3 linked regions of the Homo sapiens genome follow. The protein of the gene in region 2 purifies or fractionates together with the protein of the main gene of each other region. This does not show direct contact. Each region holds a gene or a part of one and is shown on either strand. Other genes may lie near its edges. The genes, in order: IGFBP7, HNF1A and RHPN2.

The links.
Region 1: the proteins of HNF1A (region 2) and IGFBP7 purify together in Homo sapiens (affinity purification with mass spectrometry, with the first as the bait; one study listed by BioGRID). This does not show direct contact.
Region 3: the proteins of HNF1A (region 2) and RHPN2 purify together in Homo sapiens (affinity purification with mass spectrometry; one large-scale study listed by BioGRID and IntAct). This does not show direct contact.

Annotation. Positions count from the first base shown.
Region 1 is NC_000004.12:57,100,283-57,103,933, forward strand, and holds part of IGFBP7 (insulin-like growth factor-binding protein 7 isoform 1 precursor), read right to left. Parts: intron 1-3,651. UniProt on the Homo sapiens protein: Binds IGF1 and IGF2 with a relatively low affinity. Stimulates prostacyclin (PGI2) production. Stimulates cell adhesion. Acts as a ligand for CD93 to play a role in angiogenesis.
Region 2 is NC_000012.12:120,995,405-120,999,055, forward strand, and holds part of HNF1A (hepatocyte nuclear factor 1-alpha), read left to right. Parts: intron 1-857; coding exon 858-1,009; intron 1,010-1,136; coding exon 1,137-1,338; intron 1,339-2,069; coding exon 2,070-2,261; intron 2,262-3,651. UniProt on the Homo sapiens protein: Transcriptional activator that regulates the tissue specific expression of multiple genes, especially in pancreatic islet cells and in liver. Binds to the inverted palindrome 5'-GTTAATNATTAAC-3'.
Region 3 is NC_000019.10:33,002,263-33,005,913, reverse strand, and holds part of RHPN2 (rhophilin-2), read left to right. Parts: intron 1-2,913; coding exon 2,914-3,101; intron 3,102-3,510; coding exon 3,511-3,651. UniProt on the Homo sapiens protein: Binds specifically to GTP-Rho. May function in a Rho pathway to limit stress fiber formation and/or increase the turnover of F-actin structures in the absence of high levels of RhoA activity.

The sequences.
Region 1 (3,651 bases), on a different chromosome or scaffold from region 2:
TTGCCCAGGCTGGTCCTGAACTCCTGAGCTCAAGAGATCCTCCCACCTTGGCCTCCCAAAGTACTGGGATTACAAACAAGAGCCACTGTGCCTGACCAGGCTCTAAGATTGCTAATCTGGCTATAGAAGGACTAATGTTAGCCACCTCAGAGACATTCATTCATTTTAAGAAACATCATCTTTCACTGAATATAATATGACATTTTTTAGAAGGCACAGCATATATGTACCATAAAGAGCCATCTCAACTCTGACATAAACTTTGTTATCATACAGCATGTTTATTTTATGCGAATGAAAGAGCTCTTTTAGATGTATTTAGACACAAATATATCATATAACCCCCTTGCTCATTCAACAGAAACAAAATATAGGCAAAATAAATTCAGGAAAGTCTTCCTAAAACTTTTTCACACCCAAGGGTTTGACTCTTCTGAATCTCTTTTGTTAGAAACTTCTTATTTTGAAATAATTCCGAGTTTATAAAAAAGAAAGATAGCACAGAGAGTCAATGTTGCTGGTCTACATACCACACTTTGAATAGCAAGCCTGTAGCAGAATATCTAAAGTAAGTACCAGAATTGCTATTTACCACCTGTGTGATGTCTGACCTGCAGTGTCTTTATTTGGAATTTGGGATAACAATTCCCCTTACCTTCCAGGGTTGTTATGAGTAGCATATGAGGAAAATCCACAGAAGTCCTTAGCAAACTGTCAAGTACTTCACAAATACCCGTTGCAGATGCATTCCTTGCCCTCAAGGCATTTACAGTCTAGTTAATAATTCTTTACAGTTATTTGGTGCAGCATAGTCCGCATAGTTTACACAGTGCTTTCATATCTGTTATGTAATTTGACCTTCTCAATAATCCTGTGAAGGTATGAAATTGTACCTTCATTTATTATATACATTCTCCTGAAGTTTTGAGGGGGTTGTTTTTTCACAGTGGCCAAGCCTGCTTTGAACCTGTCGGGTTGGCCTTGGCCTTGTCAGTGCTCTTTACTGTGGGAACTTCATATCATATGAATGGGGCTTTGTCAACACAGGGTTCCTAGGTCTGTTTCACCTGAAATGAACCTTTCTTATTTTTCAGACACAAAACTTCTCTGCAACTCTGGCCTGCTTTTGGGACCAGAGGCCCCTCCCTGGATTCCCGGGACTGCTCCTCTCCCTGGTAACCCTCTCCTGGTAGGGACATTGATGGGGGTGAGGCTTACTGTTAGCTCCAGCTGTTTCTAATTAACTTTGACTGCTCTCCTCTGTAAAACAGTAAAGGCAATTCAACACATTAGCTTTTTCAAAAGGGCCATATCATTTTGCCATTAATCCAACTTGGGATAAAACAGAGGTCAACTATTTAACACAATCAATTTTAAGTAAAAAAAATAAATAAGTAAACGTTTCCCCCCCTCCCCCCATTATCATCCTGGCTTTTTTCTTCTGATCTCATTTTCTCTCAGAGGCCTGGTGGAGGAGACGGTCTTGATTGACCTGGAAAAGCCATATATGACAGGCTGGGGGAAGCTTCCCTTGAACATTTCTAGTCCTCCACTGCTATCCCCACATAAGAGTAAAAGACTCACTGGGAAATCTTTGAAATTACCTTAAATAAGTGGGCTTATTAATTCACATATACCTAAGTCTCCTTCCATTTCAAAGCTTTCTAATTGTGCCACTCCTAAATTTCAAATAAAGGTTACACTCATATTCCCTGGCTTAAAAATTTTTTTGACGATAATTCAGGGTTCCCCAGCTGCTAAAAACAAGATGTTATTTGTCTAACAATGAAAAACACAGATGAGGTCAGATTGTTTGTGGGGTAGGGGTGGCTTGAGGTAAAGGAAGCATCATAATCTCATCCACTGTAGGGAGGAATTTTGAATCAGTGAAGGCTAGCTGGCCTTGGACTCCATCCAAGGGTGTTCTGTCACTGAACTATCCAAGAGAGCCTTATAAGGCGGTTTCTTCTAGAAGGCCAGTCTACAGTGGACCCCGAGGGCAGGCTCTAGGGACAGGATGGAAATCGTATTTCAGGATGTTAACAAATGCCTGCTCAGCTTAATCATTCCATCTCAAAGCTGTATAGTTTAAGAGATTTAAAAATTATAAAATCCTCCCCCAGATGTGGCCCCTCCCCCTCAAGTTATTTCTCAGCTCTCCTAAAGAGAGTCTCCTGACTTCTGCCTGAACACGGTATCCTATTCAATAGTTTTTACTGGAAAGTTCTTCCTGCTGTGTCATCTAAATGTGCCTTGTGGCTATTTAATTCCAGGCCTTTTAATGCTGTCCTCCTGAAGAACTGTATTAAGAGAATAATTTTTCAGGCATCTTCCATTTAATAACTAATTCCCAAACGATGAAGAAACATTAACTTGTTCTTTAGATTACTTTCCTCTGAAAGAATCCTAAGTCCTCTAAGGCCCCACTTTGTCCTTCAGTTTTTCAAATCTTTCCTAAAATGCAGTGATTGAAACTGGACAAAATGATTATAAAGAACCAGTGATTCATTCAATATTCTAGAAATTTCTGTGCTCAAGAAGGGCAGCTGAGGCCAGAAAAATTTTAAAGCATTTCTACTGGACTGGAGCAGACTCTTAGGGAAGGTGACTTTTTCTGTTTCTGATCTGAAAGCAGAGAGAAGGAGTAATAGGGACTTTAGGGGGAAGAGACTCCTGAAAGGAGCAAGTGGTGGTAATTTGGAGGCAGGACTGGCTAATAAGGCAAGCGAGGTGAAGGCACTTTATGAGCAGTCACCGAATAAGAAAAAGCTCCACAAGGGCTTTTCACTCCCAAGTAGCAAGCAGCTTGCCATGGCAGGCTGGGAACCCAGATTTGACAATGCTTCTAAGATCAGAGAGGGAAGTCTTGGGAAGGAGTGTAGGCATCTGTTGTTGTGATTACAGTAACAGCTTCCTTATGGGAGTCTCTGACTGCAGTCTCACCCCCTTCCAATCCATTCTCCCAACAGCAGCCAACAAAGCTTTTCTAAAAGCACAAATCCAGCTCCATCACTCAGCGCTCCCATTGCTCTGTGACAGCGTCTCAGCTCCTTAAGGGGTCACAGGCCCTCCCCTATCACTGGGCTCTGTCACGCAGCCAGCTGCCTCCTTCTCCCTAGGCAGTCCCACCAAACCTCATGCGAGTCCTTCTGCTGGCTATGCTCTGGTTATCTCCTTTCTCTTAAAAAATTGTTTTAACTGATAACTGAAAATTGTATATATATGGTATACAACATGATGTTCTGATGCATGTAGACATTTTGGAATGGCTAAATCAGGCTATTTAACATATGCATTACCTCATACACTTTTTTGTGTGTGTGGTAACAACATTTAAAGTCTATGATCTTAGAACTTTTCTTTTTTTTTTTTCTTTTCTTTTTTTTTTTTTTTTGAGGCAGGGTCTTGCCCTGTTACCCAGGCTGGAGTGCAGTGGTATGATCATGGCTCACTGCAGATTTGACCTCCTGGGCTCAAGTAATCCTCCCGCCTCAGCCTACCAAGTAGCTGGGACTACAGGTGTGTGCCACCACACCCAGCTAATTTTTTTATTTTTTTTATAGAGACGAGGTCTCACTATGTTGCCCAGGCTGGCAATTTTCAGGTATATAATATATTGTTATTAATTATAGTCATCATGAGGGACAATAG
Region 2 (3,651 bases):
CCCACTCTTCTCTCCACTCCTCTCCACTACATACCATTTTATTCTATCTGTCCCATCCACTCAACTCCATTCACTCCACATGACTCCACATTTCATCCATTCCACTCTACTTCATCCACTCACTCCACTCTATACCATTCCACTCCACTCTATTCACATACTCCACCATTCCAGTCTACTCCATTCACTCCACTCCAACCCACTCACTCCACTCCATACCATTCCACTCCACTGTGTTCACACAACTCCATCCATTCCACTCTAGCCACTCCATTCATTCCACTCCACGCCACACTATTCCTCACCATTCCATCCACTCCACCCTATACCATTCCACTCCACTCTATTCCTCCCCACCCGTCCTCTCCACCCTTTACCACTCCACTCGACTGTACCCATTCCACTTGATCCCACTCATTCCACTCAATTCCATCTACTCTACTCCACACCATCCACTCCACTTCATATCATTCCACTCAACTCAACCTAAGTTGATTTGGGTTAATTCAATTCAATTCATTCATTTCAGATTGTATCAATTCAATTCATTTCAATTCAACTAAATTCAGTTAAATTCAGTTCAGTTGTCTTCTACTGAGCACCTACTGCATGTCAGGTATAGCACTAGGCAGTGGGAGGAATGGAGCTAATAAATGCAGTCCCAGCCTTCAAGGAACTGGGAGCAGCTGACCCAGGGCTTGGCAAAAGGTAGAAACAAAGGCAGATTTGCTGGCTGCATAAAGGCAGACAGGCAGCTGGCCTAAGCAAACCAATGGAGTTTGAAGTGCTGAGGGCTGTGGAGGCAGGGGAGGGCAGGGAAGTGGGGTGCTGAGGCAGGACACTGCTTCCCTCTCCAGGTGTGCGCTATGGACAGCCTGCGACCAGTGAGACTGCAGAAGTACCCTCAAGCAGCGGCGGTCCCTTAGTGACAGTGTCTACACCCCTCCACCAAGTGTCCCCCACGGGCCTGGAGCCCAGCCACAGCCTGCTGAGTACAGAAGCCAAGCTGGTGAGTGTCCTTGCTTGTAAGGAAAACCCAACCTCATCTTTCCTTGGCAGGGAGATTCTGGAGCAGTCCCTAGGGAGGCCCTGTGGGGACCCCGGCCCCCCGGACACAGCTTGGCTTCCCCTCGTAGGTCTCAGCAGCTGGGGGCCCCCTCCCCCCTGTCAGCACCCTGACAGCACTGCACAGCTTGGAGCAGACATCCCCAGGCCTCAACCAGCAGCCCCAGAACCTCATCATGGCCTCACTTCCTGGGGTCATGACCATCGGGCCTGGTGAGCCTGCCTCCCTGGGTCCTACGTTCACCAACACAGGTGCCTCCACCCTGGTCATCGGTAAGCTGGTGGGGATGGGTGGGCACCTGGGTGGGAGGCTCATGGGGCAACCGCAGAATCCAGGAGCTGGAAGAGCCACTGGGACTCATTCATTCATTCATACAACATGTATTTATCCAGTGCCTACTCTGGACCAGTCACTGTGCTACATCAGTGATACCTGGGTGAACCAAACAGACCAAAATCTCAGCAACTCAAGCAGGGAGGCAGGCACTAAGCATAATACATCAATTCTGTGGTACCTCAGAAGGTGAAGGGTCTATGGGCAAATTACAGCAGGGTAAGGGGGACTGATGTTTTCTAAGTTTTTGTTTTATGAAGAAAAATTAAGCCCAGAAAGCCCTTATTTGCAGGTACAATTATGCAGAAGCCCAGTACATAAGATAGATAAGGAGCTGCTAGGAGAGGGGAGCAGAGAACTGACCCCATGGCCTTTGCACTGCTGTGGAACCCCAGGGCTCCAGGGAACCGCAGTTTGACAACTTTTGAACAAGTCACCGCCTGCCTCTCCCACTAGCCTAGACAAAGAGCTAAAGGCTCAGAGAGGGGGAATGACTTGCCAGAGCCACTTAAATTAGTGGCAGGTCCCAGTGGAGGGCTGTTTCCTGACCACCCTGCCCCCTCCTCCAAACCACGGGCTCTGGGAAGGAGAGGTGGTGCCCTTGGGAGGTCTTGGGCAGGGGTGGGATATAACTGGGGGGCCCAGCTGATTCCCTCCCCTTCCACTCCAGGCCTGGCCTCCACGCAGGCACAGAGTGTGCCGGTCATCAACAGCATGGGCAGCAGCCTGACCACCCTGCAGCCCGTCCAGTTCTCCCAGCCGCTGCACCCCTCCTACCAGCAGCCGCTCATGCCACCTGTGCAGAGCCATGTGACCCAGAGCCCCTTCATGGCCACCATGGCTCAGCTGCAGAGCCCCCACGGTGAGCGCCCTGTGCCCCACACAGCAGGAGATGATGATAGAGGTTGGCTGTCAATGGATGCAGGGGAAAGGGGTGCCTGGCAGGCATTGCAGTCTGCATGTGTCTCTGGGACAAGTGTGTTTCCGTGATTGAGGGTGTCTGCAGGCCAGTGTGTTCCCATGTGAATGCACGTATCTGTGTGTGTGCACGACTGCTTGTGTGAGCAGATCCCTAGTGCGTGTCTGGGTGTGTATCGGTTGTGCATGCATTTGTGTGCATGCCTGTGTTTCTCTGAAACTCTTAGGGCCATATGAATTTCTAAAATCTATTCAGATTTTAGAAAGGTAATCTGGGGCCAGGCGTGGTGGCTCATGCCTGTAATCCCAGCACTTTGGAAGGCCGAGGTGGGCAGATCACTTGAGGTCAGGAGTTCAAGACCAGCCTGGCCAACACGGTGAAACCCCGTCTCTACTAAAAGTACAAAAATTAGCCAGGCGTGGAGGCACGTGCCTGTAGTCCCAGCTACTTGGGAGGCTGAGGCAGAATCGCTTGAACCTGGGAGGCGGAGGTTGCAGTGAGCTGAGATTGTGCCACTGCACTGCACTCCAGCCTGGGCAACAGAGTGAGTACTCTGCCAAAAAAAAAAAAAAGAAAAAGAAAAGTAATTTGGTGGATATGCCAGCTATCACATAACACTCCCAGCAGGGTTTGAGACAGCCCCCTGTGATCAAAGCACTGCTATTTCTGCAGCCAAAGATAGGATTTCCACAAGGCAGTTTAAACACTCATAACCTCATACCAGGTTCAGGCTGGGTTTCGCCACCAAATGAGCTCTAGTGCCAATCTTAAGGAAATCTTTTGGTTTCAGACCTTTTTGGAATTTGGGACTGGGTTAAGAGATTTGGGGCCTGTGTATGTCTGTGTGTACATGGTTGAGAGTGTATGCGTGTGTGTGTGTTACATTTTTATCTGAGTCACTGTGAGAATATGTGGTTTATGTGCGTTTTCCTAGTGTCTGTGTGTCTCTTGTAGGGTCTATGTGTCTCCTGAGGGGTGGGTGGAGGTGCTGTAGGCAAAACATGGGGTTATATTTGGAAAGGTGGCCTGGAGATGGAAGTACTGCTGTCCTCTGCCTTGCTCTTTGACAGGGGCCACCTGAACTTACTACACAGCACCTGAGTTTAGTACAGTAGCACCTGTGCTTAGTACATAGCACCTGTGTTTAGTATAGTAGCACCTGTGCTTAGTACATAGCGCCTGCATTTAGTACAGTAGCACCTGCGCTTAGTACGTAGCACCCGTGCTTAGTACAGTAGCCCTGCACCTGCACCTCCCGTTCCCTTTCATACCTGCTGTCTCCAGGTGACAAGAGGAGCTGGAGTTGGTTTCTGGCCTCCTCCAGGCTCCCCTG
Region 3 (3,651 bases), on a different chromosome or scaffold from region 2:
CCAAAAAATAATTAATTAATTAAAAAAATAAAAGATTGGTCTATCGGGATGAAGCGATATGCTAAGATTCCAAGTATGAGTTGATTTCTTTTGCTGTAAATCTTTTTTCTGGACTCATCTTTCTGAGGAATCTTAGGCAGGCACTCTGTGTCCTGTCTCTGAGATTATATCAATGGAGACAAACTATAGACGAAATGAAGCAAGTAGGAGAACAGTGGGGAGTGTGAGGGAACCCCCATGGAGCTCGCAGCTCAAAACAGCAGGTGCCATCCCTCCGCAGGGCAGGGCTTTTTTTTTTTTTTTTTTGCTCAGCAACAAAACCAGAGGAACCAGTTGGATGGGATTCATATGAGAGATTCTATTTCAGTTCCAGATTGATTGTCAGTTAGCGCTTTGGACAGTTAATTTTCTAAACTACAAAGAAGTCAGAGGAAGGCTGCAGCATGAAAATTTCCATTGGAGCAGACGGATTGAGATTTTTTTTTTTTTTTTTTTTTTTTTGAGACAGAATCTCACTCTGTCGCCCAGGCTGGAGTGCAGTGGCGAGATCTCGGCTCACTGCAGCCTCTGCTTCCCGGGTTCAAGTGATTCTCCTGCCTCAGCCTCCGGAGTAGCTGGGATTATAGGCGTGCACCACCACACCTGGCTAATTTTGTATTTTTGGTAGAGATGGGCTTTTGCCATGTTGGCCAGGCTGGTCTTGAACTCCTGACCTCAGGTGATCCGCCCACCTCGGCCTCCCAAAGTGCTGGGATTAGAGGCATGAGCCACCACGCCTGGCCAGAATAGATCTTTCTTGAGGTCCAGGGGAAAAGCCCTGGACTGCTGAATGACTCAGATCTTATGTGTGAGCCTGGTCCCCTGTGAGCCCCTTAGTCCTTCTGCCTGCCGTCTGCTTGCATCTCCATACCTGTCGTGATGGAATTTTGTCCCAGGTGACACAGGAGTTGTGGGGAGCAGGCTGGTTTCTTTACTCAATAGAGATGTGTTTTGGAAGGTAATCCAATTTTTAAAAATTGGGTTAAAAGGCTGGGTGGGGTGGCTCACGCCTGTTATCCCAGCACTTTCAGTGGCCGAGGCAGGCAGATCACCTGAGGTCAGGAGTTCGAGACCAGCCTGGCCAACATGGTGAAACCCCGTCTGTACTAAAAATACAAAAATTAGCTGGGTGTGGTGGTGGACACCTGTAATCCCTGCTACTTGGGAGGCTGAGGCAGGAGGATCGCTTGAACCTGGGAGGCAGAGGTTGCAGTGAACTGAAATCACACCACTGCACTCCAGCCTGGGTGTTTATTTATAAATAAATAAATAAATAGTGTTAAAATATACATATATAACTTAAAATGTACTATTTTAACCAGTTTTTTTATTATAGTAAAATAACACAGAACATAAAATTACCATTTTAATTATTATCTTAAATTTTAAAAATTTTAAAATTATCCTGCCAACCAGAAGCACATTTTAACCATTTTTAAGTGTGCAGTTCAATGGCATTAAGTGCATTTGTACATTCATAGTGTTGTGCAGCCATTACCACTAAACATCTCCAGAAGTTAAAAACTTTTTTTGTTGGTTAGGCAAGGTGGCTCACACCTGTAATCTCAGCACTTTGGGAGGCTGAGTCAGGAGGATCACTTGAATCCAAGAGTGGAGACCAGTCTGAGCAACATAGGGACACCCCATCTGTACAAAAAATTTTAAAATTAGCTTGGTGTAGGGTGGCACATGGCTGTAGTCCCAGCTCTTCAGGAGACTGAGGTGGGAGGACCGCTTGAGCCCAGGAGTTTGAGGCTGCAGTGAGCCATGATTGTGCCACCGCACTCCAGTCTGGGCAACAGAGTGTGATCTTGTCTCAAAAATAAATAAAATAAATACATTTTTAAAAAGTATATATTTTTTAAGAGACAGGGGTCTCAGTACGTTGCCCAGGCTGGTCTTGAACTCTTAATGTCAAGCAACCCTCCCACCTCAGCCTCCTTTATAGCTGGGATTACAGGCAGCAGCCCCTGTGCCCAGCTATCTCCGGAACTTTTTCATCATCCAAAGCAAAGCTCTGTACTCAGTTAAACAATAACTTCCCATTGCCCGCTTTTCCAGCCCCAGCTAACCTCTATTCTCCTTTCTATTTCTGTGAATTTGACTATTCCGGGTACCTTATCTAAATGGAATCCTACAATATTGGTCCTTTTGTGACTGGCTTGTTTCACTTAGCATAATGTCCTTATTTACACTGTACCATGTGTCAGAATTTCATTCCTTTTTAAGGCTGAAAAATATTCTGTTGTATGGATAGGCCACATTGTGTTTAATCATTCATCTGCTCATGGACGTCTGGGTGGTTTCCACTTTTCAGCTCTTGTGAATAATGTTGCTATTAACACGGGTGTTCAAGTGTCATTTAAGCCCCCACTTTCAATTGTTTGGGGATATATATCATAGGAGTGGAATTGCTGGACCATATAATTGAGAATCAAATTTTTTAATATGTTGTAGGACACCGGTTCTTTTTTTTTTCTCCTGTCTTTTCCTTTTTTTTTTTTTTTTTTTTTTTTTGAGACAGAGTCTTGCTCTGTCACCCAGGCTGGAGTGCAGTAGTGAGATCTCAGCTCACTGCAACCTCTGCCTCCTGGGCTCAAGCAATCCTCCTGCCTCAGCCTCCAGAGGAGCTGAGACTATAGTCGCACACCATCACACCCGGCTAATTTTTGTATTTTTTGTAGAGACAGGGTTTCACCACGTTGCCCACGCTGGTCTTGAATTCCTGATACAAGTGATCTGCTCACTTCGGCCTCCCAAAGTGTTGGGATTATGGGCATGAGCCACCGCACTCGGCCTCCTATCTTTCTCTATAGCAACGTGATGAAGTAAATATGAACCCGAACTAATGGGCAAAACATTTTCCACTTTTAGGGGTTTTAAATTACCTGAAAGACACATTTACCCATACTCCAAGTTACGACATGAGCCCTGCCATGCTCAGCGTGCTCGTCAAAATGATGCTTGCACAAGCCCAAGAAAGCGTGTTTGAGAAAATCAGCCTTCCTGGGATCCGGAATGAATTCTTCATGCTGGTGAAGGTGGCTCAGGAGGCTGCTAAGGTAGGACTCCCTGGTTCCTGTGACTTTGGGGAGTGGGCAGGAGATGCTGGCACAGGAGCACTGGAAGTAGCGGGGCCTTCCCATGGGAGCTTGCCTGTGACCTGGGCATTGTGCCAGCTCCGGCCAGTACTGCTGGCTTGAGTTTTCTTGGCAAGTGTTGGTGTTTCAGATACAGATCACTGATTCCATCTGCAGCTTAACCTAAAAACCAGCATAATGACAGCAGCCTGATCCCCCTGTTAACTGTGACAATGACAGAACGAGGGGTCTCTTGGAGTTGCTCCCAGATTCTGGAGCAGCCCCTGGCAGGGGCTGTTGCATGGGAAGAAGAAAGGGCTCTTTCTCTGCAAATGGGTTCATGAGGGCCCTTGTGCCGGGCTGCCCCTTCCCAGTGTCCCTTCTATTTCAGGTGGGAGAGGTCTACCAACAGCTACACGCAGCCATGAGCCAGGCGCCGGTGAAAGAGAACATCCCCTACTCCTGGGCCAGCTTAGCCTGCGTGAAGGCCCACCACTACGCGGCCCTGGCCCACTACTTCACTGCCATCCTC